Linked DNA regions of Homo sapiens: region 1 is linked to region 2. The links come from fine-mapping of genetic effects on gene expression. A gene starts in region 2. The other region holds a variant in brackets. All regions are shown on one strand. Distances are from middle to middle.

The links. PIP is the estimated chance that this variant, and not a neighbour inherited with it, causes the effect. A credible set is the group of variants that fine-mapping cannot tell apart.
Region 1: its variant is the best candidate, but not a certain one, in a credible set for the expression of PPP3CA in fibroblasts (GTEx, PIP 0.78).

What each region holds. Positions count from the first base shown.
Region 1 is chr4:101,306,379-101,309,392 of GRCh38, reverse strand. All of the region lies in intron 1 of PPP3CA (protein phosphatase 3 catalytic subunit alpha), which reads left to right. Among named protein-coding and RNA genes, the nearest start is that of MIR1255A, 23 kb to the left of the region's middle. The variant A/C (reference allele first, on the strand shown) is at 1,854.
Region 2 is chr4:101,346,393-101,348,892 of GRCh38, reverse strand. PPP3CA (protein phosphatase 3 catalytic subunit alpha) reads left to right here and starts at 1,367. Exons shown (of 14, transcript NM_000944.5): 1 at 1,367-2,154. The coding sequence starts at 2,097. PPP3CA-DT (PPP3CA divergent transcript) reads right to left here and starts at 1,116. Exons shown (of 2, transcript NR_033874.1): 1 at 884-1,116; 2 at 10-569. RefSeq lists silencers at 1,132-1,741, 2,212-2,500.

The DNA of each region.
Region 1 (3,014 bases), 40 kb after region 2:
GATTATGTTTCTTATAGTCTCTTATTTATGGATTATTATCAAGTAGAAAGCTTTGTCATTTTATAATATCCCCAGGAATAAAGCCCCTTGTAACTGGAAGCAACAGGAAGTACCAAGATAATACCTGATGTGTAGTATCGTTTTGTTTCCTTTCTGTTCCATAGATGACAAAGGCCTTGCTATCAAAGTACAGAAAAGGGATGACAGAGGAAGGTGGGGCTGGGGTTGGGAAGGTTTATTATTATTATGATTATTATTATTGTTTTTGAGACAGGGTCTGCTCCTTCACCCTGGTTGGAGTGCAGTGGTGCAATCATGGCTCACTGTAGCCTCAATAGCCTAGGCTTAAGTGATTCTTCTGCCTCAGCCTCGCAAGTAGCTAAGACCACAGACGCACACCACCATGCCAGGCTAAGTTTTGTATTTTTTTGTAGAGACGGAGTTTCCCTGTGTTGCCCATGCGCCACAATGCCCGACCAGGAGGTCTTTGTAGAAAACTCTGGATTCCTTTTTCTGGGAAGTATCTTCCTCTTGCTAATGGAAAAATGTTTAATCTTATGTATATAAAATTTCACATTGCAGAAAGTATGTTTTACTTGAATTATGAAATTTTTTGTGACTACAAAATAAATGAATTTTGGCTAACACTTTATTAAAAATAATTATGGGCCAGGTGTGGTGGTTCACACCTGCACTCCCAGTGCTTTGAGAGTGAGAGGACCTCTTGAGGCCAGGAGTTAGAAACATAGCAAGACCCTGTCTCTGCAAAAAGTTAAAAAGTTAGCTGGGTATGGTGGTGGGTGCCTGTAATCCCAGCTACTTGGGAGGCTGAAGCTGCAAGATCACTTGAGCCCAGGAGTTGGAGGCTGCAGAGAGCTATGATCATGCCACTGCACTGTAGCCTGGGTGACAGAGACCTTGTCTGTGAAAAAAAAATCTGAAATATTACATGTAAGGGGATTTTGTGAACATTCTATATGCTAGGTATTGTGATAAAACTGTAACCAAGTATATTGTATATAGTATGGAATGATAGTAATACCAATATCTTTCATAGAGAAGTTTCTCCTTTCCAGTTTTAAAATTTAGGATTACTTTGGGTCAGGTCTATTCATCTTTGAAGAAAATAATTTTTTAAAATTCCATTGTATAACATGAAGATTTTTGTATGTGAAAAATACATTAAAATCTTGATAAATAAGTTTTAATTTTACATTTCAGGCCAGACATTTGTTGTATGAATCTATGAGAGCACATACAGGATTCCTTGTCATATGTGGACATGAGTCATTATAAAGTGTACTGTTAAATTGTTTGGAGGCACACCCAATAGATGAAAAGGCTAAAAAATGTAATATGTAATTATGAAATTCTCCCTTGACTGCTTAGTAACCATTATGCTTTCTTTATCACTAATTATTTCGGGTAACAGATTCAATAGGTTTACAATAAGGATTCAAATCGTGAAGTGGAAGATTGTGTCTTTTACTGAAACCTAACTTAACATGGAATTGGAGTATAAATAGAATTTTTATAAAAGAGAAGTTTGTCCTTAAAAAAGCAGTGTATACTTCAGTATAACCTCCTTGGTTACTTTGGTTTGTGTTAAAGCATTCAGTATGGTATTCGCGCTGGAGGAAGGCTTCACATACTAGGCACCAAGTGTTCCAAGTGTTGGCCACAAGTACATCTGGTAGATTTAGAAACATCCAAGAAAATTTCCACCAAAAACTGTTTTATACTTGACCATGTTTTAGTGTTTTTAACACTGGACTTATGACCAGTTGTAACTACATTTTATAGTAAGAATGGCAACCATTTGTTACATAATCAAGATAAGTAATTTGTTAAGC[A/C]AAAACTTTTTTAGGGAGTTACCTTCTTTATCTGTATATATTAGAGTTTGACTAATGAAGATTTATTTTCAGCTGATAAGGTCAGCCAACTATGGTGACGTATCTGATTTGCTAGGTTTTTGCTCTGCCAAACCACCTTCTCAGAATTGTTTCGAAGGTAAAAGCTCCCAAATACTTGACATATGGCAGCTATTCTCATTTCAACACATTCTGTGTTTCAGTTCCTGCAGACCAGGAAAACTTAATCTGTAATCACAAGTGGAGCTAGGGCAAACATATCTTACCCTCAGACATTCAGGTTTTCCACGTAAGGTAGGGTCATTTGTATAAATACACTGTACCAACAGAATCTGTTTTTTTTTTTTTTTTTTGGTTCAAAGTGAAATTAGTGCAGTGATTAATCCCATTTTAGAGTCTTTGTTCAGCATGATTGAAGTTTAATGTTTTTGCTAGGAAAAATTACTTGGTGTTTTGATAGAGCTGTAACACCTACAATACCACCAGTAGCATTGGTTCTTGAGAGGAGACATAGCATGCATTCCCTCAGATATAATCCTTCAATAAATACTACTGAAGCAGCTCTCTACCAGGAAGGAAAACAGCACTCATCCTCATCCTCCCGTGGACTCACTGTTTTTGTCTTGCCTATTCTGTGCTGTAATTCTCACATCTTAACTAAAGGAGCTACCACAACTAAACAAACAGACAAAAAAAAATCAGAGTATACCTTCACAAAATAAGCAGTCTATATGAAATAAGGGAGTTGCATTTGGTTTTTTTGTCAGTAAGTCTGTAATGCTCGATATATCAACTTTCAGAATTACAGTAAGTCAGAGCAAAGAGAATGAAATCTGTAGCTCAGCTTGTTTATTTTTTTGGTTTGCTTCTGCTGAATTTTGTTTCCCCCAAGTCAGAATACGAGTCTTTTTGTGTTCTCTCTCTTCTCTTATTCTTCCGAGAAGTGAAGGTGGTGGGTGTACAGCCCATATTTGTTTACTTTTTCTGTAGCTCATATATCTATTATTACTGGTGGTTTCTTAGTGGAAATTTTTCTTTCACTCTCACTTTGGCTTTACCTCCAAGTGCTTTCTTCTCTTGGCTGCAATTGAGCACTATAATTTGTGGCTTTCCGGAGGGGGAGCCTTGGTGGTCAGGTGGAGG
Region 2 (2,500 bases):
CAGGAAACATGAAGGGTGAGAAATTTATTCAGATTTCTTCATAATTCCCCCCAAAAGCTCCAACCACGTTGCCAGTCCTTGGGTGCTGCAGTTGGTCGGGGAGAGGGGCTGTGTGGAGGTCACCTTCTGGTAGACGGAGACCCGCTTTTCAGACTCTGTGGCGCAGCAGGCGGGCCAGGAACATTTGGGCCACTATTGCTCTTAGCCCTGCCGCGCCTGACTTTCTCTCCTCTACTTTCCTTCCGACCGTAGGGACAAGTGTGGGGATCCGCTTTGGGCTCCAAGGCCCTGCCCGCACTGGCAGCACCAAGCGGGTGTAGAATGACTGGAAGGAGCAGGGAAGGAAGATGGGTGTCAACTGTCCCGGCCAGTGGCTGCGTGCATGTGTGTGTGAACAGGGAAAAGGCCACCCTCTCCCATGTTTCTCCCGTCTCCTCGGTTCTCCTCGGAGACCCGCAGGGCTGCCCGAGGTAGCTCCGAGTTGCCCTGGGTCGCTGGGGCTTGGTCCGCATCCTCCTCCGCTAGTCCGCTCCCGCGTTCCACAGCGCCCCGCCGCTCGGTGTGCACGCCTGGGTGGGACACAGTAACAGCCCCTAAGCCGCCAACGCAAAAGCAAAAACAACCGTACACCGCATCGCAGTCGTAGCTCTTCTCCGCAAGGTAAGTTGTTTATTCGTCGCCGTTTTGGCGATCCTCCCTGGACAGCTGCGGCAGCGACGGCAGCTGCGCCGCGGGCGCCGAGCTCCCAGCCTCTTCCTTCCTCCGCCCTCTCAGGGCTGCCTCTCACCCCCACCCTCTTCCCTCCTATCCCCGCCTTCTCTCTTCTTGCCCTCTTGTGGGCCACGCACACACCCGGAGACACCCTCTGCACTTGGCTACTCACACTGCGGCTTAACCCAGCCGACAAGGCACGCTTGCCAAAGAGGCGCGGGTGTGTGTGTGCGGGGTCCGCGTTCGGAGGCCAAAGGAGGGTGGCGTGGTAGAGCCCTTCTCCTCCTGGCCGCGACGCCTTGCCCACTCTCCTGCCCTAATCTCGGCCTGCCAGCAAAAGTGACACCTGAGCAGGGACTGGTCCGTAGAGGCGGCAGGCCCGCTGGTCCGGCAGCTGGAAGAAAACAGAGCAAGGGGCGGGGACAATGAGGAGGAGCGGGAGGCGGGACAAGCGGGGAGGCCGCCACCTGGCACTGAGTGATGCGCCCTCTAGCCAATGAACGCGAGGAACTCCGGCGTCGGGGCGGGAGGTCGGGGGCGGGCTCAGTGGGGAGGAGGAGGCTGCAGGCGCGCAAGAGGCGGGGGCCGGGAGGAGGAAGGGGAGGAGGCGGAGGCGGGCGCGGTGTTGGCGGCGGCGGCGGCGGCGGAGGGGGGTAGGTTGTGCCCGGGACTGTGTCTGCCGAGCTCGGCGGCTGTGCCTTGGTGAGTGGAGGAGCGGCGCGGGGAGGCAGAGGCGAGCGCGGGCGATCGCGGCGGCGGGACGTCTCCGGCGGCCGCGGCACCAGCGGCGGCGCTCTGTGTGGAGAAGCAGGGGCAGCGGCAGCAGCAACAGCGGCAGCGGCAGCAGCAGCGGCAGCAGCGGCGGCCGCCTCTCCGCCGCCGGGGACGCCAAGGTGCGGCTGGTGGCACTGACATCGGCGGCCCTGCCTCTCCTCCCTCGCCCCCGGCCTTCCCCATGTGATCGGTCTTAATCCTGGCCGTGTGTGCGCGCGTGGGGCTCCATTCCGCGGTGCTGGGTCTCCGTGCCGGGGTGGGTGCTCGTGTGTGCGCTTCTCCTCCCCATCCCCCTTCCCCCAAGAATAAAAGAAGAACCGGGAGGCGTGCTCAGAAAATAAATAAATAACCACCACACACGCGCAGCCCGGAGCGAGTCGGCGGGGCTGGCGGCAGCGGCGGAGGAGGAGTGAAGGCGGCGGCGGCGGAGGAGGGACGCGCGGAAAAGGCAGCAACTTTAAAGCCAGCTCAGAGCCTAGACCTCCAGCCGAGCGGTTTGCAGCGCGGCGGCGGCGGCGGCGGCGGCGGCGTTGAGTGTCTGGCCCGCCGGTCCGGTCGGGGTGTGCAGTCGGACGGACGAGCAGCGCGTCGCTGTCCTCCGGCAGCTGGAGATGTCCGAGCCCAAGGCAATTGATCCCAAGTTGTCGACGACCGACAGGGTGGTGAAAGGTAAGCGGAGCGCCGCGGTGGCCTGGGTGCACCGTGTGCCGCAGGCGCCAGGGCAGCTTGCCTCGCCTCGCCTTTCCTCCCCTCCCCCGCCCCAGGTTCTCCTCTGTCCGCTCCAGCCGCGGACCTTCTAGGATATTGTGCAACCCGCGAACCCCGCGAACCCCCCGCCCCCGCGGCGCCCTTCCCCCACGCGTCCCACCCAGCCTCACTTGGGGCATTTTTATTGACGGGGGCGTCAGTTGGCAAATGGCTGAGCCGCGGGGAGGTGGCGGCGGGGGTGGCGGTGGTGGGAGGGGGCGCCCGGGGGGTGGTTGCTGGTAGGGTGTAGCTGCTGTGACAGAAATAG